Regions from separate parts of the Homo sapiens genome. Here all the other regions are linked to region 2. Evidence: fine-mapped expression QTL. A gene starts in region 2. Each other region holds a variant in brackets. All regions are shown on one strand. Distances are between the middles of the regions. Region 1 overlaps CCDC146 (coiled-coil domain containing 146). Region 2 holds the start of FGL2 (fibrinogen like 2). Region 3 has its middle 89 kb from the start of POMZP3.

Region 1 (8,320 bases), 39 kb after region 2:
GCAGAACCAAAATAAATATCTGTAAAATGTAACATTAAGTCGACTTACCAACAGCAACTCAACAGTTAAAAAGTTACAAATAGACCGGGCGCAGTGGCTCACGCCTGTAATCCTAACACTTTGGGAGGCCAAGGCGGGTGGGTTGCCTGAGCTCAGGAGTTCAAGACCAGCCTGGGCAACATGGTGAAACCCCATCTCTACTAAAATACAAAAAATTAGCCAGGTGTGGTGGCATGCGCCTGTAGTCCCACCTAATTGGGAGGCTGAGGCAGGAGAATTGCTAGAACCCGGGAGGTAGAGGTTGCAGTGAGCCAAGATAGCGCCACTGTACTCCAGCCTGGGCAACAGAGCGACAATCCATCTCTGGGGAAAAAAAAAGTTATAAATAAATTATATTTAAGGTGGCATATGAATAGATTTTAAGATATTTGATACAGGTAGAGTATCCTCAAAGGTCTTAAAGATCTTGTTCACCATATTTCACCCATAGATTAAAAAAATAATGAGGGTTGTAGGGATTGGAAGCCAGGCCTGGCACCAGATAGTATGGCCCTCATGAAAGATCCCCAACACTTTCACAAAGAAGAAATGGTTTCATAATGCATTTAACATTTTTCTACCCTGATGCGGGTAGAAAGACCACGAAACCCCACTGTATAGACTCAGACTTTTGCATTTTGATAGCTGCATTCATTCATTTGCTAACAAATATAAGCAATTTACCTAGCACCTGGGTATACTGTGCCTGGGATTATACTGTGCCTGGGATTCTAGTAATACTTTGGCTGAGGATACAGTGAAGGACAAGGTAATCTGGGCCCTTTCCTCATAGGTCTTATATACTAGCTGGGGAAGTATAAAAATGTTTTTAATAATGTAAGTAAATTTATTCTTGCAGATTGTAATGTTATGAAGCTCAGCGTTCTTTAGAGGTAGGAGCAAGTACACGTGGTTATCTTCTTTAGATTTGGAAGTCAGAAAAGGCCTTCTTATGAATTCATATTTAAGCTGAGACATGAAGAAAGACTTGGAGTGAAGTAGGGGGAGTAAGGAATGACTAATCAGAGGCCCTGGAGAAAAAGAGAGACTCATACATCTGTGGAAATCAAAGGCAGCCAGTGTGGCAGAAGCAATGAAGCACTGGGAGCTTAAAGAGTGTGTTGTGAAAGGAGGCTGTGGGGGTGTTGGGGTCAGGCAGGACCTCAAGGTCTTGAATACCAAGGGTCTTGAATTTTATTCCACTTGAAGTGTTTTGATCACCCAGCATAACATAACCTTGTCTGATTTTTAAAAAGATCTCCCTGGCAGAAGGGCAGTTAGGAGGTTTAGTAGTGGTCCAATTGAGAGATGATGAGACTTGGGCCAGTGGGATCAGGGAAGGAAGAGGAAAGTGGATGAATTCAATAAGCACTTTAGAGGTAAGGGCCAGGCTTTCACGCCTGTAATTTCAGCACTTTGCGAGGCCAAGGTGGGTGGATCACCTGAGGTCAGGAGTTCAAGACCAGCCTGGCTAACATGGTGAACCCCCATCCCTACTAAAAATACAAAAAATTAGCTGGGCGTGGTGGTGTGCCCCTGTGGTCCCAGCTACTTGGGAGGCTGAGGTACGAGAATCACTTAAACCCGGGAGGCAGAGGTTGCAGTGAGCCGAGATTGCACCACTGCATTCCAGCCTGGACGACAGAGTGAGACTCCGTCATAAATAAATAAATAAATAAATAAATGTAAGAACAACAGGGCTGAAAAACACAAATATTCTCTTTAGTTCTATTTTGATACTGTCACTAGCAGTTGAAGTCAAACCTAATACAAATGCTCATTGCATTATGATTTTAGGATGGTAAAACTTTAGTGTTTGACGATGTTTTATGATGTCTGTTAACTAATTATCACCTAACTCAGAAAACAGATCAAAAGTCATTTTAACTAGAAATAAAATGGGAATAAATAGTACCTCTTTATGCATTGGAAAACTTTCCATGCTTCTTTGACAGCAGAGGCAAAGGCATCACGGTACAGGGGAGTGATCGTGGGTTTTTGGAGCTGAACCACTTGGGTTTAAATTCTCACCCTGCCTTTAACTAGCTCTATAACCTTGAACAAATCATTTTTCTAAACTTTAGTTTCAAATGGAGATGATAATCTTTATTTCACAACATTTTTAAGAATGAAATAACTGATGGGCAACACATACTCTAATAGCTGTTCAATAACCATTCATTTTCTCAACTTACAAATAGCCAACCTATAATCTACACTATTCAGATTGTTTGTTAAACCTTGAAATTTTTTTTAGAGTTAGAAGAATTTAACTCAATCCTCTCAATTTCCAGACAAAGAAATAACAGCCTAGGGAGTTGAAAAGACTTGCCTGAGGACACAGAATGTACTGGGGGCAGAATAGAACTAGCACTATTTTCTCCAAACACCTGGCATGTTTCCAGTACACTACATTGCCTCGTGTATCCTCTAATGTTTAATGGAGGATTTTATAAGATAACCATATATCCATTCCATCCCCTGCTTAAGCCTAAAGAGAATGGTGATTAACAGTGACCTTATGTTCTCTTTGCTAGTTACATGCTATGGGAAAACTTCCTGGAACCAGAATGGCAGCGTTAAAAGCCAAGTATACCTTGCTGCATGACGCCGTGATGAGGTATGCAATTTACCAATATGGAGACATGATTAATCACCTTTAAATTTCTTACTGGTGATGAGACCTGTCTTCATTTGCATTCCCCCATAAGCAGACCCTGAGGCAAGGATTTGCGTTCAGGGAGTTTGAGAAGTGGTACGAGAAAGCATCGTGAGAGAGTGGGGAAGTGCGACTGGGAAGGAAGGAATCTAGCCTTGATCAGGCCGTGTACATCTGCGAGTTTATATGATGGGCTACTGGGGCTCAGCCTCACAGAGGAGCCTCTGAGTGGCTCACCTCAGCACTCTCCCACTGAAGAGTGAGGAAACTGGAATATTTGCCCACCAGTTTCCACCACTCATTTATTACAAATTACTTCCAGGGAGATTAGCTCTTGGCACTTCCAGCTTGCGCTTTGACAAACCAAGCAAACTTTGATGGCCAGAGACAGCTCTCAGGCGGAGGGACACAGGTGCTGCTGATACATATGGTAACTGTCCACTAAAGCTGCAGGTGGGCAAAAGGATTCTGGTGGGACACTGACAGTCTCTGCATAGGACACACCTGCAGGACTCTTCTCCCGTGTCTGTTCATCACTCAGAGGTGTAGATTCTCCAACAACCCCAGCTTGAGTCTGCTGAGACCCTGTCTGTACTTCTCACCTCCTCCCCATATCACAAGCTACTTACACCTTGCAAGTCCCAATCACCAACAGGTCAGAAGAACAGGCTATCATAGAAGAGTCCAGCAAGCCTGCCTGAGCACTGGCTATTAGCCACTGGGAATTAAGAGGGCAGGGGAGTGAAGAAAGAGGGAAAACCCTAATGTGCTGTGATTCTTTACCACTCCCAAGCCTCTTTCTTTCCTTCCCCCACCTCTTGTCTCAGGGCCTTGCATTGTATCTTCATCAAAAGCCAAGGAGCAACAGCAACAGATAGAAACTCCATGCTGCCACTCCCCAGCCATCCTCTCCCCGCAATTCCCAATCACTTCCCCTCCTTCTTATCTTGCCCAGAGATATTTGGCTACTTTGAGGGTAAAAGCATGAGGGAAGAGTGAACAACTTGGAAAAGAGCAGAGCTGCATTCCTATGCAAACTTCAAGTGCACCCAGGTTCCTCACACCCCTCCAAAGCCCCCAGCCTTGGTTCCTCATCCTCAAGCCCAAGCCAAGTCCTCACCCCCACACCTAATGGAGGTTCCATTCCCCCGTAGCTGGTCACGCCTGCCAGTGTGTTCTCAGAGTTCTCAAGGCTCAGGAATTTTGAGACTTTAAGTGGAAAGTCTGGAGTAATCTTTTACAACATACTTCACACTGCTTAACTGAGAGGAAATGCCATGCAGTTCTCTGGGCATCCCTCCAATCCTCTTTGCAGATACAAGGAATATCAGTGTTTCCTGCCCTCTGGATAGCTCTTCTTTTTTTTTAGACAGAGTCTCCCTCTGTCACCCAGGCTGGAGTGCAGTGGCCTGGTCTTGGCTCACTGCAAGCTCCGCCTCCCAGGTTCACGCCATTCTCCTGCCTCAGACTCTTGAGTAGCTAGGACTACAGGAGCCCGCCACCACACCCAGCTAATTTTTTTGTATTTTTAGTAGAGATGGGGTTTCACTGGGTTAGCCAGGATGGTCTCAATCTCCTGACCTTGTGATCCTCACGCCTCGGCCTCCCAAAGTGCTGGGATTACAGGCGTGAGCCACCGTGCCCAGCCTGGATAGCTCTTATCTAGAGCCCAGTGGAGATTTGCAGGGTGCTTTGACTTAACTTCCTCCTCCCCTGGCCCACAACTCAGTTCCCTGGCCCCTAATGACAAGTAGCAATGCAGGACCTCAGCTATGGCACTATTTCTTCCTCTTCCAGGTTGTGTTGCAAAACAGTTAACTTCCCTTCTGCTACCCACATTTTACATCTTGACCACTTAGTTCCCTCTAATGCCATTGCAAATACTCACCATTCTCTCCTACTCCCAATGCCTGATGGGTGGGAAAAACATGAAGTAG[ACT/A]CTTCATTCGTGCTGCTAGGACTACAGCTGGGCAGATATAGCCTGGAAATATTGAACTGAAACTGAATGAGTCTTCCATAGAAACCATGTTATAAGAGTTGTTAAAGTCTCTTCTACTGGTATCATGTTTTAAATACATGTGGGTAAGTTGCGATTTGTGTTCTGGCTGGAACCCTACCACCCTGTCCTTTCTATGCAAAAACAGGCACTGTAGCCTGGTCCAACAGCTTACAATTTCAATAGCTGAAGCCTGACCTATTAAGGAGACCAGATAACTTTAGATTTACAAAGTTTATTAGCATACATGAAAATTGAATTATAGGAGAATAATTCCAGCTTTCATTAATGAAAATTATTTGAGGTATCACTGTAGCTATTGTTGTTGCTATTTGGTACCTAACATCATGCCTGGAACGTGTTATGTCCCAGTAAATGTTTTGCTAGATGCTATTGAGCAAATGACATTATAAAACCTGGGAAAATGGATGTATCTGTACTGAATTGAGAATATCACAAAGGTGAGGCAGACACAAGGTAACTTCAGTTGAGATTGGCTTGATCAAGTCATTGGGCGTCTCTGCAAATGAGCTGGAACTTGAAGATTTATCTTGGTGAGGACAGTTGGTGGGGAGCATACATCAAAAGAGAGCTCTGGCTCTAAAACAGGAAGTGGTGAGGGCTTACTTCAAATAGGAGAGGTAGCTAATATAAGGGTTTCTGGGAAAGAGGAATCATATCTACTGGTAAGGTTGGAGCCGATGCTTGCTGATGCTAGCTTGCAGCATAGAGGAGTTCTATAAGATACTGGAGATTCCGCCATGTCCTTTTTCTACATCCTCTGACAGATGTTTAGTCCTTTTCCCTACATAGGGCCAAGGTCATAGAATATAACTGGGGTTGTAGGAATCTCCCTCTACCGTGACCTTCAAGTCCATCCAGCTCTAACCAGTGTCCAATTTAGAATCAGAAATCTGTAAATTTATTTATATTCATAATTGCGTATGGGAATTTCTCTTCCTAGTTTCCTAATAAAGTGCCATTAGAAAAGTTTCTGTTTTTTCATAGTTCACTAAGTGGGGAGAGATTTTCCTACAATTATGTTACAAGAATTCAAGAGAGCTAGGGTTGTTTGGGGAGTTCAAGGGAAAACCTCCTCTTTCCGTATCATTTATCCCCTTCTAGTAAGTCATAATCATTCTTCAAAGTCAAGTTCAAATGTCACATTCCCATTGAGTGATCCTTTCTCTGTTGTCTCCTGCTGTCTTGATCTGGACACCAGCGGTAGTACTTGTCATCTGGTATTCCTCCGCATCTGCCAGATTGTAAGATTCTTGAAGCTAGGAGCTAAGCCTTATTCACCTCTTGCACCTAGCATAGTACAGTCATCTCTTGGTATCCTTGGGGGATTGATTCCAGGACCTCCTGCAGATACCAAAATCCATGGATACTCCAGTCCCTGATATAAAATGGTATAGTATTTGCATGTAACTTAATCACATCCTCCTGTATACTTTAAATCATTTCTAGATTACTTGTGATACCTAATACAATATAAATGCTATGTAAATGGTTGTTATGCTGTATTGTTTAGGCAATCATGACAAGAAAAGTCTGTACATGTTCAGTAAATAAACAATTTTTAAGTAAACATTTTATTTTGGAATAATTTTAGATTCATAGAAAAGTTGCAAAAATAATATACGAAGTTCCCGTCTATCCTTCACCCATTTTCCTCTAATGGGAGCATCTTACATAACCATGGTCCATCAAAACTAGGAAGTTAACATTCGTATATTACTATTAATTAAACTTCAGATTTTCAACAGTTTTTCCACTAATGCTCTTTTTTTTGTTCCAGGACCCAATGCAGTATACCCCACTATATTTAGCCCTCATCTCTCCTTGATCTCTGTGACAATTTCTCAGTCTTTCCTTGTTTTTTTTAAATCACGTTGACATTTTTTGTTTTTTTTTGTTTGTTTGTTTGTTTGTTTTTTTGGGTTTTTTTTTTTTGAGATGGAGTCTCACTCTGTCGCCCAGGCGGGAGTGCAGTGGCTCAATCTCGGCTGAGATGGAGTCTCACTCTGTCGCCCAGGCGGGAGTGCAGTGGCTCAATCTCGGCTCACTGCAAGCTCCGCCTCCTGGGTTCACGCCATTCTCCTGCCTCAGCCTCCCGAGTAGCTGGGACTACAGGCGCCCGCCACCATGCCCAGCTAATTTTTTGTATTTTTAGTAGAGACGGGGTTTCACTGTGTTAGCCAGAACGGTTTCGATCTCCTGACCTTGTGATCCGCCTGCCTCGGCCTCCCAAAGTGCTGGGATTACAGGCATGAGCCATCGCGCCCGGCCACGTTGACAGTTTTAAGAGTGCCAGTCAGGTATTCTATAGAGCATTTCTCAGTTTGGAATTTTTCTCATATTTAGGCCAGAGTTAGGTGTTTTGGAGGAGAATACCACAAAGGTGAAGCAGACTCAATTTTTTAACAAAAATTTTCCCTCGTGGTTGGTTGAATCCACAGATGTGGACTCACGGACATGAAGGGTCAACTGACTTGGCACAAAAATGTCCCAGAGTTGAGTTGATCTGAGGAGTGGGGAGCAGCTATCCTCACTAGACCCCCACAGGAGCCACCGAGGATGTACATGTCTCATTATGTGAGTCTCTGTTTTTCATGTAACCCAGCACACAAGAGTCAGAGGTCCAACTGCTACAGAATGCCAAACGTTTCACTGAGCAAATACAACAGCAGCAGTTTCACCTGCAGCAAGCTGATAATTTTCCAGAAGCATTCTCCACGGAGGTCTCCAAAATGAGAGAACAACTTCTCAAGTATCAAAATGAATATAATGCAGTGAAGGAAAGAGAGTTCCATAATCAGTACAGATTAAATAGGTAAGTGCACAGTTCTCTCCGGCACACTGAAAAGTCTTTTCCTCATAAATAGAAAAAAATCAGATTAAGTTGGAGGTAATTGAAGGAGTAGGAGATAGCAGTACGATGATGATTGCAAACCTAGTTCTCTTGATTCCTTAGAATGGAATGGGAATTCCCTGAACAAGAAAGTTACACTTCTCGAATAAAAGCTCAGGTGACAGAGATGCCTGCTGTGTTTTTCATGTCAGGAAAGCCATCTCATTGAGAGCTGCAGTCAGAGAACACACTCCACCAAACCAGTTATTAGCATTCCCTTGCCCTTCCCCTGCCCTGGCAGTGGCCCCCTCATCCCATGACTATAGCAGTACCAGAGCACGCATCTGCATGGTGAGCACTTCTCCCCACATGCATTTTCCAAACAAGCCTCCATGAGCTGAGGGTCACATGTCATCTGGCTCACTCTATTCTTCTAAGAGAGCAGCAACAGGACCACATATGCAAACTTCATCTCCTACTACTAGATTGTTCCTCAGGATCAAGGAGAAAAGGTATATCCTTTTGGAAGACACATTTACTTATCCAAATTTAGAGGACGTCATTTAGTGAACTAAAGCAGACATTAAGTGCTAAAAGGGGAAATGTTATCTTCAAAATCTCTTCTAACATTCCCCCCATGGAGTAGCAAGTCACTGGAGGAGTTTGTTCAGCAAGTCATACTATTTAGATTGAATTTGAAAATGATTGCAATTCAAGTTTTCTGCTGTGGTGTGCTGTGTGCTGTGCCTGGGTACAGGAGAGAAAGCAAAAC
Region 2 (8,320 bases):
TTTTTAATAGAGACAGCGTTTCACATGTTTGGCCAGGCTGGTCTCAAACTCCTGACCTCAAGTGATCTGCCTGCCTTGACATTCCAAAGTGCTGGGATTACAGGCGTGAGCTACCACACCCAGCCAACAATTATTTTTTAAATACAGCAAGTAATACAAGCAATAGAAAAAGTTTCAATAGAAATTAAAAGAATTGTAAATCTAATGTATAATTCTCAATATTGCTAATTGCTTGCAAGTGTTCATTGGATAACAGCATAACAACAAAGGACTCCTTTAAAATGCATTGTTTTTCAGCTTTATTTCAAATGCTGTGTAGCATAAGAACCTAGCCGTCAGACATCATTTTTTAGCTATGAAAAATATGAAACAAGGCATATTCTAAAGTGCTGAAGGAATTAATTGCCCTATTAGATAACGAATACCTGGAGGAATGAACAGAGTGATTTATGGCTTAAAGTGCTTGGGTCTGATCATCATCTTAGCCTCTTTGAAGGAGGACTTGTAGCCACCAGGGTGTGCCTCACTTACACCAGGCCAGGTACCCCAGAAAATCCCATTACGGACACCTCTGTATTTTTGGTGATAATATTTGCCATTTAAGTTTGCAGAAAGACATGCATCAAACCACCAGCCTGAACTGTAGTACAGCCCACAGTTCCCAGAAGGATATCGATCATTGTCTTTATCTGGAGTGGTGAAAAACTTCAGATCGTGGTTGTAATGTTTGTTGAAACGTAATGCATCTCCAGCTGTGCCATTATAGTTACCAACGTGTAAACGATATTTGAGAAACTCATTAGCCACATAAAACTGATCATACAAGGCATATAGTTCGACACCATTAAAGTCTTCAAGATCTATTCTCAGAATCATTTCCTTACTCTTGGTCAGAAGATGAATTTTATCGTTCCCCAGCCAAAATTCCCTTCTGAGGTTTCCAAAGCCTGCTTTGTAGTCTTGCCATGTTCTGGTGAAGTTGGTGCTCCCATCGAGACGTGCCTGCAGCACTGTCCAGCCTCCCCCCATGGTCTCCATGTCACAGTAAACTTCAAAGCTACTATTTTTGGGATCAGGTGTAACTCTGTAGGTCTCACTGCTTCTTTTGCCTATTGCGTAGTAGTCAGAGCAATCTTTATATATTAGATGTTGAACTGAAGGGGAAATAAAAGGAAGGCATTGGATCTTGTTAATAGAAACCATGCATCTGAAGAATTCTTTATATGTACAAAAGCAGTTTGATAATTGAATCAATGGCAGTAATGAAACTTTACTAAACTTACTTGAACCTGTTTAGCAAATGCTTAAGGCCTCACAAGAAGAACCTAATGTTATAAAGCAGAAAGGACCTCTAATATACTCTTGGTTGGTAGTAATAATGACAGCATCAACAGCAAACGACAATAAGAAAATAATAAAAGTACAGTTTTAATAATTTAGTATTATGTAGTGAGGCCTACCTATACGTTCTAGGCATGCTGCCAGACTGGGTAACATTTTCACACTGAATCTGAACATTGACCTTATGATGTAGGCGTTACTGCCAGTCTGCATGTGAGGATATTTAGGCATAAAGATCAGTGGCTTGCCCACCTTCACCTGAGCTTTAAGTGGCAGAGCCAGGACACTAACTCAGATCTGGCTGGCAGCAAAGCTTTGTTCTCGTAATCATTGCATCCCTTGGTCCTAAAAATCAGATGATTCTAACTCTCCTAGAACTGTATTCCTTGCATACAGAGGAAGCACAGGCTTCTATTTTCTTTCACCTAAAGGGGCTGATAGCCTCTACTGTCAGAAGGTTTTATAGCATATATTCCAAATGATGTGTTAAAATCCTAATGCATAGGATTGATCATAAATTCATATTCATTTCACTTGACAACTATATAAAGAAGCTCAAGTGAAAAAGAAGTATCTTTTTCAATGACACACCAATATTCTTATTCTGTATTTATTATCTAGGAAAGTATTTAGCCACTATTTCACATGTTGGGTTTCTAGAAAGAAACAACAGGTGACTATATTGAGGATAAGCATAATAATCAGTTAACAAAGTTCTGTATGAATCAGACAGATATTTACTCCCAGATAGTTTTTATTAAAATGTGTGACAAATAAGGTAAGTTTAATATGAGATACCCTAAGGCATAAAAATCTATTCCTGTATATTTAGAGCTCAGAATATTCAGTTATTTCACCCAAAATGTTTAGGAGAAAAATAGACAATAGTCTTCATATCATGACAAGTTGCCATGCAGCATCTAATCTAATGTATACCCACTGATGTCACCTAAGCGGTGAACCTTGGATTCGCAGTGTGCCAGGTACATTCAGATGCAGGCTGCCAGGAGTATTACCAATAGAGGTCCTTGAAAATATGACCCTTCCCTCCTTCACTGGCAGATGCCCTGGGGATGGAGCATGCCTGAGATACTGTCTCTAAATGAAAGTGATCTCCGCCCTGTCCTTTCAACCTCACGTTCATGGTAAGTAGAGGTCCAAATGCGGAGATGGCTTTCCAAAGTATGAGACAGTCAGCAACAGTGGTCCCAGTGACTCAGGTGAAAAGCCAAGGTTTGGAGAGTCAATACCACTGTTAGTTCGTGGGTGGAGTAGGCGATTAAGTCTGTGGAATTTCACATGTATTTATTAAAGTTAATTCAAGTAATTTGGATGGTGAGGATGGGTTCTACTTCTATCTGCTTGAATTCTAACTTCAGGTAAAAGAGAAAGAAATATGAATACCTTCCCTTAGTGGCATGCTAAAACTCTCCCCTTAAAATATTTTTTGTGCCACTAGGTCTCAAAGCAAAAATTTGTGCACACATATGAAACTGCTTTTATTCCATCTGTAAACTCTCCCATTTTCTCCAGATATTTGGGATTAAGAACTAGATTACTTGCTAAAATCTTTCAAAGACCTCTTTAGCCATGAGAAGCGGCAGTCAGTCAATCACAAGAAAAACTGATTTCCAACAAACAAGGCACAATTGTGAACATCGCCTTATCTTTATTGTTTTCAAACACCTCATTGAAGAGACAAGTTAAATGCACTAAAACATCAAGAAATTCTCTCTACTTCTGCTTGCAAGTAGGTCTGGCATTAACAAATAAGATCTTAAAATTGAAAGTGACTTCCAGTGGATACAGAACTAACTATGATTTTTGTAATTAGGTCATATTTATGTGGTCATATTTGAGAAGATATTTATTTTTTCCTGTGCACCTTGATAAATAAAAGACTTAATCTGTCATCTATTTAACTTACTGACTCAGGTTAATGTTTATAGATACTCTCTAGCTGTATAACATTTATGAACATATGATAAGAAAACATTATTATACATACCTGGACGTGACTGTATTTGTTCTTGGCTGGGACACTTTGAACATTTGCCATCCAAACTATTGACAACAAATGTTAGATTTGCCACTTTGCTGTCAACATAATTTTCTATGTTGTTCATATTTACAAGATTCAGCTTCTCCAGGCGACCATGAAGTACATTGATCTCCTCTTTGGCATTCTTTAGCTCAGAGGACAGCTTGTTAACCTCACTCTCTAATTCTCTAACTCTGTTATCACCAACCTCTCCCGGGGCTCCTGTACTGGGTAACAACAGTCCGTTTCTGCCTGGGTCTCCGTTGTCATCAGCCTGCAGCTTGCAGTCTTGGCAAGATTTCTTTAGACTATTTACGATTTCCTTGAGGTTTTGGACTTCTTTGAACACCTCCTCGATCCTGCTGAATTGCTTCGGGAGCTGAATAGTCAAGGGGGGCAGGCTTACCTGGTAGGGGCACTCCCCTGCCTCTTCGCATTTCCCTCTGCTTTCTAGTCTCACTGGGCAGACATCCTTTGCTCTTTCATCTTTAATTTCCTCTGTTTCATTGTTTGCCACAACCAAAAAACCGTAAGTGGCAAGAACAGCTGAGCTCAGCCAGTACCAGTTAGCCAGCTTCATCTTTACAGTGCTGCTCACCCCAGCAGGGAGTGCGCAGGGCTGGAGCTGCTTTAATAGCGGCAGCTGCCTGAGTCAGGCTTTCTGTGTTCCCAGGAAAGGGTGGGAGCGTTTGCATCACAAGTTTTAGAAACGCACAGGAAGAGGAGATAGCCCTCATCAAACGCAGTTTGCCAAAAACTGTAACTTACTCTCAATAGAAATAATATGCATTGAAATTATTATAGTCAAATGTACACAGCCAACAAGATTCACTTTCATAATGTATTTTATGAAGTATAAGAAAAGTCTTGCATTTCTAAAGTAATTTGGTATACTTACGCTTGAAGTAAATAATTATACGTAACTTCACTGGAAAAACAGTTTTTAAAGATAAAAAGTAAGAGCTAGTTATCCAAACTGTCTATAGAACAGAAACGTTACTAAAATGAAAATGGTCCTTTTTCCTTCTTAGAATGGGGCATTGGGGAGCCTGTATTTTCTTCATGTTGGACTTTCAGGTGAAATCTTAAGCACTTTTAGAAGTTTCTAAGTGTAACAAAGTACAGCTTTCTGACTATTGCAGTTGACTTTTGCTTCATCTACTTGAAAAAGAGAAGAAAACTAGTGGAGAAAAAAGTGCTACTTTCTATTCCTTTGTCCGTAGCATAGTGTATATTAATGTCTAAATGTCTAAGACCCATTTAAAAGGACATAATTGTCTTTCATCAAAACCAGTAGCTGCCTCCTTTGCCCTTCGACATTTTGGTAATTGTACTGTCATCTTCCACAGCTGCTCAAATGTGAATCTTTGAGCTATGCCAGTGTCTGTCCTGAACTTCTCTTGCCTACAGCATCTTTGCCCTTTCTTTCTGCAGGTAGCCCTGGCAGGCGGGCCTCTTGCTTTCTGTCTCCACGCTGGTTCTTCTACCTGCTCTCTGGGCCACTTGGTATATCAGCTTGTTCAAAACATGTAGCATTAATGATAATAGTTTTCTAACTTTCTCTTCAGAGGCTGAAGGCAGGAAAGAGGAACAGCTTCAGTTAGAGAAACCACCTCCTTTTAATTTGTTTTGCATATTGACATCTCATAAGATTTCTTGTTTAAAAAGGGTTTTTTTGCTTTAAAAATAATTTCAAAATGACTGACATGGGCAAAAATCTAAATGTTTTATTGTATTACTTAAAACACTCTGTAGCCTATCTCATATTTATGTCTTTAACCTGATTTCCTATGACTTTTCTGTATATCCCCTTAATTTTAGCCAAATCCTATTCACATTCTCAAAATGTTGGCAGACTCTTTACTCTTCCATGACTGTATTTATTCTCGCATACTCAGGAGACCTGGCTTCCAACCCTAGATCTACCTCTGATCATGTAAACAGATCATCAGCTTTAATGAGCCTTTGTTCCTGTAGCTGTAGCGGAGGAATTTAGCTATTTCTTCCCTCATACAGGAATGATAGTCATGCAAACTTGGAGCACTTGGCTGGGCGTGGTGGCTCACGCCTGTAATCCCAACACATTGGGAGGCCGAGGCATGTGGATCACCTGAGATCAGGAGTTTGAGACCAACCTGGCCAACATGGTGAAACCCCATCTCTACTAAAAATACAAAAAAAAAAAAAAAAATTAGCCAGGTATGGTGGCGTGTGCCTGTAATCCCAGCTACTCGGGAGGCTGAGGCAGGAGAATCACTTGAACCCAGGAGGTGGAGGTTGCAGTGAGCCTAGATCGTACCACTGCACTCCAGCCTGGGCAATAAGAGTGAAACTCCATCCCCCAGCCCCACCCCTCACAAAAAAAGAAAAAAAAAACTTAGAGCACTTAAGAAAAAAAAAAATGCAGTGTATAAATGTAACATTCTTCCCAAATAAATTTGTCAAACATGTTCTACACACCTTATGACTTTTTTTCTTCCATCTTCATATAGCTCTTTCAAAAATTGTTTTTCTCTTCATTCCATTCAATATATCCAATTTTAGACAAAAACTTTTTAGCTAAAAATATCTATTTAATCCCCTAACTCCTAACCTCATTTCTTCTCACCTATTTTCAAGCTGTGACACTTCCCTGTTGGGAGGTAAGAAATAAATGAAACAATAGATAATTTTAAAAAGGAGACATGATGACAACATAGATAAAAAAAAAAACCATTTTGTAAAGTAGAAATATATAGGAATGATATTTAGTTCCTAGTCCTTAAGGATATTGTGAAATGTCCTTGACTGACTAGAGTATAAATCCCTGCATTTAGTTAGTAAAGTATTTATTAAGGATCTTCTGTATACTCAGCACTATGCTAGAGCATATATAAGATGCGTGCCACAGGCACTTTCATTCATTTATTCCTCATACATATATTGATATACTATATATTTATTCATCATAAATTGACTCTGCACCCTCTGCATGCAAAACCGCTATTCTAGGCACTTGGGCCACACTGGTGAACAAATCAGACAAAAATCCCTTTTTCCTTCTTAGAAAGGGGCATTAAAGACCTGGTATTTTCTTCACGTTGGACTTTGAAATGAAATCTTAAGTACTTTTTAAAGTTTCTAAACCTAACAGAAGTACAGCTTTTGGACTCTTGCAGTGGGCTTTTGGTTCATCTGTTTGAATCAGAAATGTGCGTGTCAAGCACTGCTGCTAATTTTTGGCTGGTCACACCCCAGTTAACCAAGGGCCAATGGCACAGTTTCCCCTAAAAAGCTTGGATGTGCTTTGAGAACTGGCTTCTGTCCCTTCAGAATGCATAAAAAATTCCCTGACATAAGGGTAGAGAACTCCTCTGTTGACCAGTTTCATTGACACTGACAGGTGACCTGCTAGGTTCTCGGTTTAGAAAGTCATTTGGCCACTGACTGGAAGGCAGATGCTAAGTGACTACTGCATGAAAAGAGGCTCAACTCCCCTAATGAGTGTATAACTCATGGAGGGCAGAGAGTGTTGTACCGCCTCTACGGTTCCTCCCTGCACTTGCAGATGAGCAAAGAAAGGGCTCAAAGCAATAAATGACTTGTCTGGTCATTTTACAGTTTTCAGTTTCTGTTTTAGAGTTTTTAAGAGACAGCTGGAATTTGAACCTGTATCTGATTCAAAGTTCATATCTTTTCTCTTTGCCACATTGCCACGTAGGAGGAAAGATAACATGGGGAGGGTATGTGAGAACTATGTGGAGAGCCTGTGCTTAAAGCAATGCTTAGATCAATGGAGAGCCACTAAAGGTTTTTGAGCAAGGAAAATAAAATACTTGCCCCCCCCCCCCCCAGGACTATTTTAGGAATGAATCTTCTGCTGCAAATCAGTGGGAAATGGCATTTTAGGTGAGAGCTAGTAGTGTGGTAGCAGGCACTAGATAAGAGGTGAACCAGTGTGGAGGCAGGAGGGGTAGGAAAGGAGATGGAGGCATTATTACCAAGGCATGATAGAAGCCATGGGATCTGATAAGTGGTGAGAACTGGAAAGAGAGGGACAACTCTGAAATTTGCCTCTGATTGCAGTTAAATGATAGCATGCTAATGACAGAGGTAGCAGTAGGTTGGGGAGAGTGTAGTAGTATTTCTGTTTTCAGTACACTGGGTTTTAAGCATTGACAAGCCACCAAATGCAAATATCAAGCAAAGAGTGGTGGCACATCTAGGTATGAATATTGACACAGAATAGATGTGGATGTTAATTTGAAATCACGGGAATCAAAAAGATGGTCAAAGAAATAGGATGAGAACCAGGAGAGTACAGGAGCGTCATGAATACCAGGAAAAGGGAGGGTTTCAAGCAGGACTAGGCCATCAGAAAATCGAAACCTGAAGAGCTGACTTGTCCTTCACTACTAGGAGTTCCCACCTCATGACTTGACCTTCTGCCTCTTCTCTCTTGCTGAAAGCCCTTCTGGATTCTCTCATGCTGAGTCTACCCTGACTCCTAGTATCGGCTGCTTATTCCTCATGGCGGTGTCAGAATCTTCCTTACTACCCTGAATCTGTCCTTGACCCAGCACTGACACATTACACTCACTTACAGACTTGTTTTTAGATTTAAGCAAATTATTTAACACCAATACATGGTGGGATTTTAAAGTAGCAAAATTTATTTCTATAAGCCGCATATGAAATTTTACTTTCATTAGTCTATATTCACATGTTCAGACTTCCTTTTTGCTTACACAAAGTATATTTAAGAGAAGATCTGCATTTTCTATAACTGGATCAGATTCCTAAAGTAAATTTTTGTTTCCCCTAATACAGTTTTTTTTTTCAAGGAAACCCTTTGTGTTTCTATTTGTACTAAAAGAAGAAAGTAAATTTAATGATAGTCGTATTTATAGTATTGAGAGCCTTTCACTGATATTAAGCTTATTAACATTTGTAGTTTCT
Region 3 (8,320 bases), 480 kb before region 2:
CTCTTGATTCCCATAGCAACATAGTTGTTGGATCAGTCAAAACCCCACAGAGACATGCAAAAGTTCACATCTTTTATGCTGGACCTCCTCAGGATACTCTAATTTGCTACAGCTGTGCCCATGCCCATTCACTCCTAGGTTCTTGGCAAGCCCAGCCTTGATGGTTGACAGGTGTGGGAGCTACTGGCTCAGGGGAAAGAAAATTAACCCTATTTCTGCCAGAACCCACCCTACAATAGTTAACACATAGTTTCTTTTATAATCAAATTTCTAACAATACCGCCCTCAACAGAGAAACAAGAGGCTGATTCATTATTCTTACACTCGAATAAGGAGAATCTTCATTTCTCACCATGATCAACCAGTATAAATTTTTTAATCAGTCAGAAAGCTTTCTAGTCCTAAAAGCACTGGGACCCATGATTATCACTAAGGATATTACTTAGAGGTGGAAAGATGAAGATATGAACAGCTGGTTTAGTAGTCACAGCAGAAGACCTTGAAATATCCCTAGAAGAGAAGATTTTAGGTTGTTTGGCTTATTTGGAGAAGAAGAGAAAGCCACTGCTCTGTTCCTCCTTTGCATTTTTCCCTCTTCAGAAAAGCAGGCTCTTATAAATTTTTTAAAATAATTGAGCCATTTTGAAATGGTATATTTTTGACCATTTTAATTATTTGATTTGTTTTCGTTTCTGCCTTGTGCACAGTCAGAGGTAAACTAAAATGGCTTGTGCTGGTAGTGGGCCATCGTAAAAAGCTCAGATGACAGTGGGAAATTGCTTTTGTGATGAAGGGAAACATTAATAAAAGCTTCTCTCATGTTTACCCTTTTAAATTGGCCCTAGAGGAGTTATTTAAAGTACCCCATTGGCAGTGGTTGGCTGATACCTTAGGTGTGAAATGTTCTCTGTCCATAGGTGGTAGTTGAGTTTGGAAATATCTACCTTTTTCTGACCTCGTTTGGTTTATCATTGAAGTTTCATTTAAACTCTTTTGTCCTCTTGTGATATGGTAAAGGCCTTAAGTCTTTGCTCATAAAGAAAATATTGTTGTGTGTCTAAGAAAATGTCACATTTTGTGTCCCACAAGGGTCTTAAGATACTAAATCATTCTACCTGTGGCATCAGGGCTTCAATAGATGCAACTGGCTAGGGATTTTATTTTATTTTTTAATTTACAAGAAAGGTAACCAAAGCAAAATCAAAGTAGGTTTTTTTGTTTTTAATGTGAATTTCCTACGCTGCCCTATATTCAACTACACATATGAGATACCCAAGAAAGTGCACTAAATAACTTTTATAGCTCATTTGGGAGTCCTTCCGTTGAGTCAGAGAGTAAGAAAAGATTCATGTGGTTCAGCTGTCCAAGGGTACTGAGCGTGAGAAACCAGCACAAAGTGAAGGCTCCCTTAGGATGGCCTCTCTTATTCCCACTGCTGTGCCATTCCACAATGCTTGTCTTCTCACCCTCAGCAGTATGACAGGTGCTACACTCAGAGCATCTGCAAAGACAGTTAGTAGAAGATGAGATCTTTTATAGAAACTCAAATGTCCTCTCTGGAGGATTCAGTTGATAAGGGTACATAGTTGGTATTCTATTTAACTTTACTTTGGTTTTGAATCTTGAAATTTTCTGCAGTGAAAGGGGAGGGGAACTTTTATCTATTCAGTAGCCTCTGAGGGCCAAGGACTTACATTAATTTTTTTGATCACTTGGTTTTTCACAACAAATTCATAAAGTATAGGTGTTTATCTGCATCTAATTTTGTAGATAAGGAAATTCCAACCATAAAAGGTTAAATTTTCTCTCACCAGGCAAATGTGTGAGAACCCAAATGTTTATTCTGATCCAAGACCATCTCTGTTTTCTGTATCAAGCTTTCTCCTCTGGAGATAAAAATAGGAAAAATGTAATAATTTTTTAAGCAACATGTCATATGATGAGTCTTGAATATTTTCTAATTGAACTTTTCTTCTTGGAACATAGAAGGAAATGACCTATAGAGAAAAAGGGACTAGCACCAAATCACACAGTTCTTTTTGTCTCTTTTATGAGTTTAAATAATATACTCTTCTCTAATCAAGTTTTTTGTATAATTTTTATAAAATTTACTTAGAATAACAGTTAGATGAGCTTTGACAACACTAGTGTAATCAGCATCACAATCAAGTTCATAGAACATTTCCATCACCCAGAAACTTCCCTTGTATTTATTTGCTGTCATTCTCCAACCTTTTACTTTAGACATCACGATAAGCTTTATGTCACTATAGATTAATTTTTCTTGATCTAGAATGTCATGTAAATAAAATCATGTAGTGCACAGCTTCCTTAGCTTGCCATAATGCTTCTTATATTTGTTCATGTGGTTGGGGTAACTTAGTGGTCTTTTTTTTTTAACTGTTAGTAATATTTCATCATACGCATATACTACATCTTGTTTCTCCACCCACTTGCTCGCTCGTTGATGGACATTAGTATGGTCTACAGGGTTTTTTTGCCTATTGAAAACAAAGCTTCTGTAAACATTTCAGTGCAAGGAATTTCATGTCTCTTAGGTAAATAATTAGTAGTAGAGTTGATTTGGTGTATTGTCAAAAAATGGACAAACTGATCTCCCCAGTGGCTATTCAATTTTATATTCCTACCAGCAACATATGAGACTTACAGTTGCTCCACAACCTTGAAAACACTTGCTATTTTCAATAGTTTTAATTTTAGCCATTCTAGTAGGTATAGAGCAATATCTCATTGTGGTTTTACTTTTATTTCTGTAAGGCCTAGAAAGAGTGAACCTCTTGTTTTGTGTTTGTTAGTCATGAATGTATCTTTTTCGGTAAAATATTTAGTCAACTATTTTGCCCATTAAAAAAAAATCTGGTTGCTAGTTTTCTTACTGAATTGTAAGAATGATTTTTATATTTTGAATATAAGTCCTTTGTCAGATATATGCAATGCAAATATGTCCACCTCATCTTTAGGTTGCCTTTTTATCTTCTTGATGGTAGTCTTCAAAGAAGAGAAGTGCTGTATTAATTTTGATGAAATCAAGCTTATCAGTTCTTTTTATTTACAGTTTTTTGCATCTCATCTAAGTAACATTTACCTAATAAAAGATCGCAATAATTTTGTCCTATGTTTTCTTCTGGAAATTTTAAGCTTTCTAAAGTTTTTGAGTTTATTTCTGTGTATGGCATGAGGTATGGGTTATGGTTCATTTTTTCCACAGGGATAGGAATTTTTTAAAAAGATTATTTTTCCCCATTGAATAAATGCAATATCTTTTTTAAAAAATCTATTTACTATGAAAGTGTCTATTTCTAAACTCTTAATTCTGTTGCATTGATCTACCTGAATCCTTACAACAATGCTACACTGTTTTGATTACTGTAGCTTTTTAAATAAGTATTAAAATAAGGCAATACAACTTCCTTCTGAAAATGGCTTCAGCTATTTTAGGTGTTTGCATTTTCATAAAAATTTTAGAAACAGTTTGTCACTGCTTTTCTTTTCTTTTTTTCC[C/CT]TTTTTTTTTTTTTTTTTTTTGAGACAGCATCTTGCTCTGTCACCCAGGCTGGAGTGCTGTGGTGCAATAGCAGCTCACTTCAGCCTCAACCTCCCAGGCTCAAGCAATCCTTTGACCCCAGCCTCCTGAGCAGCTGGGATCACAGGCCCATGACACCATTCCCAACTAATTTTTTTTTTTCATAGAGAAGGGGTCTCCCTATGTTGCCCCAGGCTGGTCAAATTCCTGGGGTCAAGCAAGTCACCTGCCTCTGCTTCCCAAAACGTTGGGATTGCAGGCATGAACCACTGCACTCAACAGCTTGTCAATTGTTTTAAAAAGCATGACTGAATTTTTACTGGGATTGTATAGCATCTATATACTAATTTACATTTCACTTATATTTAAAGTATCTTTTAATTGTTCCAACAGTGTTTTCAGTTATTCACTGTGTACATCTTGAATATATTCTGTTAAATGTATTCCTAAATATTCCATGTTTTTGTATGCCATTATAAATGGTATATTTTACTTGAAATTGTATTTTCTAATTATGTCTTGCTAGTTTAGAAATACACTTGCTTTTTATATATTGCTCTTTTATCCTAAGATCTTGTTAAACTCATTTATTTTAAACATTTTGGTTATTGTTGATGATGATTCTTTATAATGTCCTATATACACAATCATGTCATCTCTTCACAAGGACAGTTTTATTAATGCCTTCTAATATATGTATCTTTTATTTCATTTTTCTTTTCTTCTTGCACAGGCTAGACCCTCCACTATAACACTGAATAGAATTAGAGAAAACAGCTATCTTGCCGTGTTCTCTATCATAGAAGGAAGCATTCAGAATTCCACTACTAAGTATAATGGTCACTGTAAGTTTTACATACATACCTTTCATTAGGTTGAGAAATTTTTTCTCTAAGCCTAGTATGCTGATATTTTTAAACTTAAATGAGTGCTGTATCAGGGGAACCTGCCCCCAGTATTTCAACCTAGGTTCTTTCTATTTTCCCTAAGTGTAGGTCAGCCTGAGAAATAAAGAGAAACAGTACAAAGAGAGGAATTTTACAGCTAGGCCTCCAGGGATGACATCACATATTGGTAGGTCCGTGATGTCCACCCGAGCCACAAAACCAGCAGGTTTTTATTAAGGACTTGAAAAGGGGAGGGGGTGTACAAACAGGGAGTAGGTCACAAAGATCACATGCTTTAAAGGGCAATAAAGATCACAATGCAAAGGGTAAAGCAAAGATCACAAGGCAAAGGGCAAAATCAGAATTACTGATGAGGGTCTATGTTCAGCTGTGCGCATATTGTCTTGATAAACATCTTAAACAACAGAAAACAGAGTTCGAGAGCAGAGAACCAGTCTGACCTCAAATTTACCAGGGTGAGGTTTCTTCCCCACCCTAATAAGCCTGAGGGTACTGCAGGAGACCAGGGCATATTTCAGTCCTTATCTCAACTGCATAAGACAGACACTCCCAGAGCAGCCATTTATAGACCACCCCCCAGGGATTCCATTCTTTTCCTAGGGTGTTAGTATTATATTCCTTGCTAGGAAAACAATTTAGCAATATCTCTCCTACTTGCATGTCCATTTATAGGCTCTCTGCAAGAAGAAAAATATGGCTCTTTTTGCCCGACTCCGCAGGCAGTCAGACCTTATGGTTGTCTTCCCTTGTTCCCTAAAATCGCTGTTATTCTGTTCGTTTTCAGGGTGCACTGATTTCATATTGTTCAAACACACATGTTTTACAATCAGATTTCTACAATAGTGGTCCCGAGGTGACATACATTCTCAGCTTACGAAGATAACAGGATTAAGAGATTAAAGTAAAGACAGGCATAAGAAATTATAAGAGTATTATTAGGGAAGTGACAAATGTCCATCAAATCTTCACAATTTATATTCAGAGATTGCAGTAAAAACAGGCGTTAAGAAACTATAAAAGTATTAATTTTGGGAACTGATAAATGTCCATGAAATCTTCACAATTTATGTTCCTCAGCCGCAGCTCCAACAGGTCCCTCCGTTCAGGGTCCCTGACTTCCCGTAACAGTGCTGCACTTTTTTCAAAATTTGTTTCTCCATATATTAACATGATAAAGTGGTTTTTCTCTTTTATTCTGTTAATATATTAGATTACACTGATTATTTTTCAAATATTAAGTCAGCTGTTTATTCCTGAGATATACCTCAATTGGTATATATTTGATATTTTGTTAAGGATTTTTAATTCTGTGTTTTTGAGGGGTATTGGTCTGGTTTTCATACAAGCACATGCTTATCTTGTGAAATAAGCAGGGATTCTTCCCCTCTTCTATTTTCTAGAAGACTTTGTATATAATTGATATTGACTGAAATCTCTTAAGCCATATGAGCTTAGACTACTGTTTATAGGAAAAACTTAACTATGGATTCAATGTATCTATATATTAGGACAGGGCTTTGGTTGTTCTTTTTTTTCCTTTATCTCAAATTTTTAAATTTTGTACCTTTGAATGAATTTGTACATCTCATCAAAGTTGGAAATTTTAGTAGGATATATTTGTTCATCATAGCCCCTTATTATCTTTTCAGTGTTTGTAGGATCTGTAGTGAGAGCTACTGCTTTGTTCCTGATACTGGTTATTTCATTGTCTCCTATTCTTGACCAGATCTCTCTTAAAACCAGATTTTGCTTTCACTTATTTTTCTATTACCTGCTTTCCATTTGATCATTTTTCTGCCCTTATAGTCAATATTTCCTTTCTTTAAACTCATTTTGAGTTTAATTTGCTCTCATTTTTCCAGGTTATAAAGCATTTTAAGCAACACATTTTCCTCTAAGGAAACAGCCTTACCTGTATCCTACACATTTTAAAGTTGTGTTCTTATTTTTATTTAGTTCAAATTATTTATGAGAAATTATGTTTTACAGGGATATTGTTTAATTTCCAAATATTTGTTGATTTTCTACATATTTCTACTGATTCCTAACATAATTATTTTGTGTTCAGAGACCATGTTTTATAATATATCAATATTTTTAATTTCTTAACACACTTGAAAAGTTTATGATATAACTTAGAGGATGTATTATGTACACTAAAAATAATATATCTTTTCCTGCTCTTAAGTAGTGCTTTATATAGACCTATCAGTTGCAATAGGTAAAGTTGGTTGATAGTATTTTCAACTTTCTTGTTAAAAAATACAATTTAGAAGTATTTTTCAATACTATCTCAAGTATTTTTGAGTTATCTGTATCTTTACTGATTTTTGTCTACTTATGCTATCACTTATTGAAAAAGAATGTTGAAATCTGCAACTATCAATGTGGATATGTCTATTTCTTCATTCAGGTCTATCAATATTTGTTTCATGTACTTTGAGTTTCTTTTATTAGATGCATACACATTTAGATAAGTTAATAAAGATTTTTATTCTTCCTTGATTATTTAAACCTTTGTTATCATGAAATTTACCTCTTTATCCTTGGCAATTTTCCTTGGAATGTAGTGTACTTTGATGTCAATACAATCATTCCAAAAGTTTTATGCTTAGTGTCTGTATAATATATATTTTTCCATCTGTTATTGTAAATTATCTGTTTCTTTTTACCTAAAGTAAATTTCTTGTATGAGCATACATTTGGGTCTTGCTGTTTTACCTGGTCTGAATAAACTCTGCCTTTTATTTGGAGTGTTTGATCCATTTACACTTAATGTAATGAATAATAATTAGATAGTTAGATAAGTAAGTTTTCTATGTCTTTTTCTTGTTTTTGTTTTGCTCCTTTGCCTTCTTTTAATTCGATATTTTTTATAATTATATTTTGTCTCCCCTAGTGATTTATATGTTAGCTGTGTGTGTATATGTGTGTATTTGCTCTAAGGTTTAAAGCACTCATCTTTAATTTATCAATTCTACCACCAAGCACTGTTATATCACTTCACATTAATCAAACTTATAATAGTTTACTTATTTTTCCCTACTCTTCCTTGTGCTATTGTTATCACAATGGTCTAGTGCCTCCAGTTAGGAAGCTATGGTAATCATAAAGTTCATGCTATGATTCTTTTGCCTCCTATTAATATAAAAAATTCCAGTTCAGCTTGCTTTCAAATGTCTGGAGTTTTTTTTTTTATAATGCTTTTTCTGTGTCTTAGTTATCTGAAGTGGGAGTGCAAGTCAGTCTTGTCAGTTAGCTTTACATGATCAAAAGCAAAATTAACTTTAACATGATATATTCTTTAGAAATAATATCTTCATAAACAAAAAATAAATTGACCTGTCAATAATGCTAGCTCTGAGATAATATTTCAGCTGTATTAAAAGGTTTACATTAAGATTTGCTAACTTTACTCCAACTATGATCAACAAATCATTATAAATATTTTATAACTCATATTTATGTTAGAAACATATGGTCATAGGGGAAAAATTAGAATATATAGATGAAGAAAAAATGAAACTTTCCTCTTATATCATACCTAGACATGCAGATTAATATTTTGCTGTAGAATTTGAATAGGTATAGTTCATATATTCTAAAGAATTCATATTAGAAATTTTGAGAACCATAGGCACAGACTATGACCAAATAAAAACCAAAAACCAAAAACACCTTCTCATATTCCCACCTCCACCTCTGACTCCTTAATTTAGATGGTCATTACTTCCACCTAAATTATAGATACACTTAGCCTCCTACCTAGTTTTTGTCATCAGTTTTGTTTTTTCGTACCTATTCTCATTTTGATCAGAAGGATTTCAATCATACTTTATCATTCCATCACTTAAATTTCCTCAACGAATTC

What was found. PIP is the estimated chance that this variant, and not a neighbour inherited with it, causes the effect.
Region 1: its variant is fine-mapped to the expression of FGL2 in whole blood (TOPMed, PIP above 0.99).
Region 3: its variant is fine-mapped to the expression of FGL2 in Th1/17 cells (Schmiedel 2018, PIP 0.95).

The regions. Positions count from the first base shown.
Region 1 is chr7:77,234,371-77,242,690 of GRCh38, forward strand. CCDC146 (coiled-coil domain containing 146) reads left to right here. Exons shown (of 19, transcript NM_020879.3): 3 at 2,577-2,659; 4 at 7,321-7,530. All of the region lies in intron 1 of CCDC146-AS1 (CCDC146 antisense RNA 1), which reads right to left. Among named protein-coding and RNA genes, the nearest start is that of CCDC146-AS1, 10 kb to the right of the region's middle. The variant ACT/A (reference allele first, on the strand shown) is at 4,636.
Region 2 is chr7:77,195,832-77,204,151 of GRCh38, forward strand. FGL2 (fibrinogen like 2) reads right to left here and starts at 3,988. Exons shown (of 2, transcript NM_006682.3): 1 at 3,350-3,988; 2 at 1-1,154. The coding sequence starts at 3,962. The coding sequence ends at 448. All of the region lies in intron 2 of CCDC146 (coiled-coil domain containing 146), which reads left to right. RefSeq lists a silencer at 3,579-3,688 and an enhancer at 7,078-7,127.
Region 3 is chr7:76,711,758-76,720,077 of GRCh38, forward strand. No RefSeq gene overlaps it. Among named protein-coding and RNA genes, the nearest start is that of POMZP3, 89 kb to the left of the region's middle. The variant C/CT (reference allele first, on the strand shown) is at 3,523.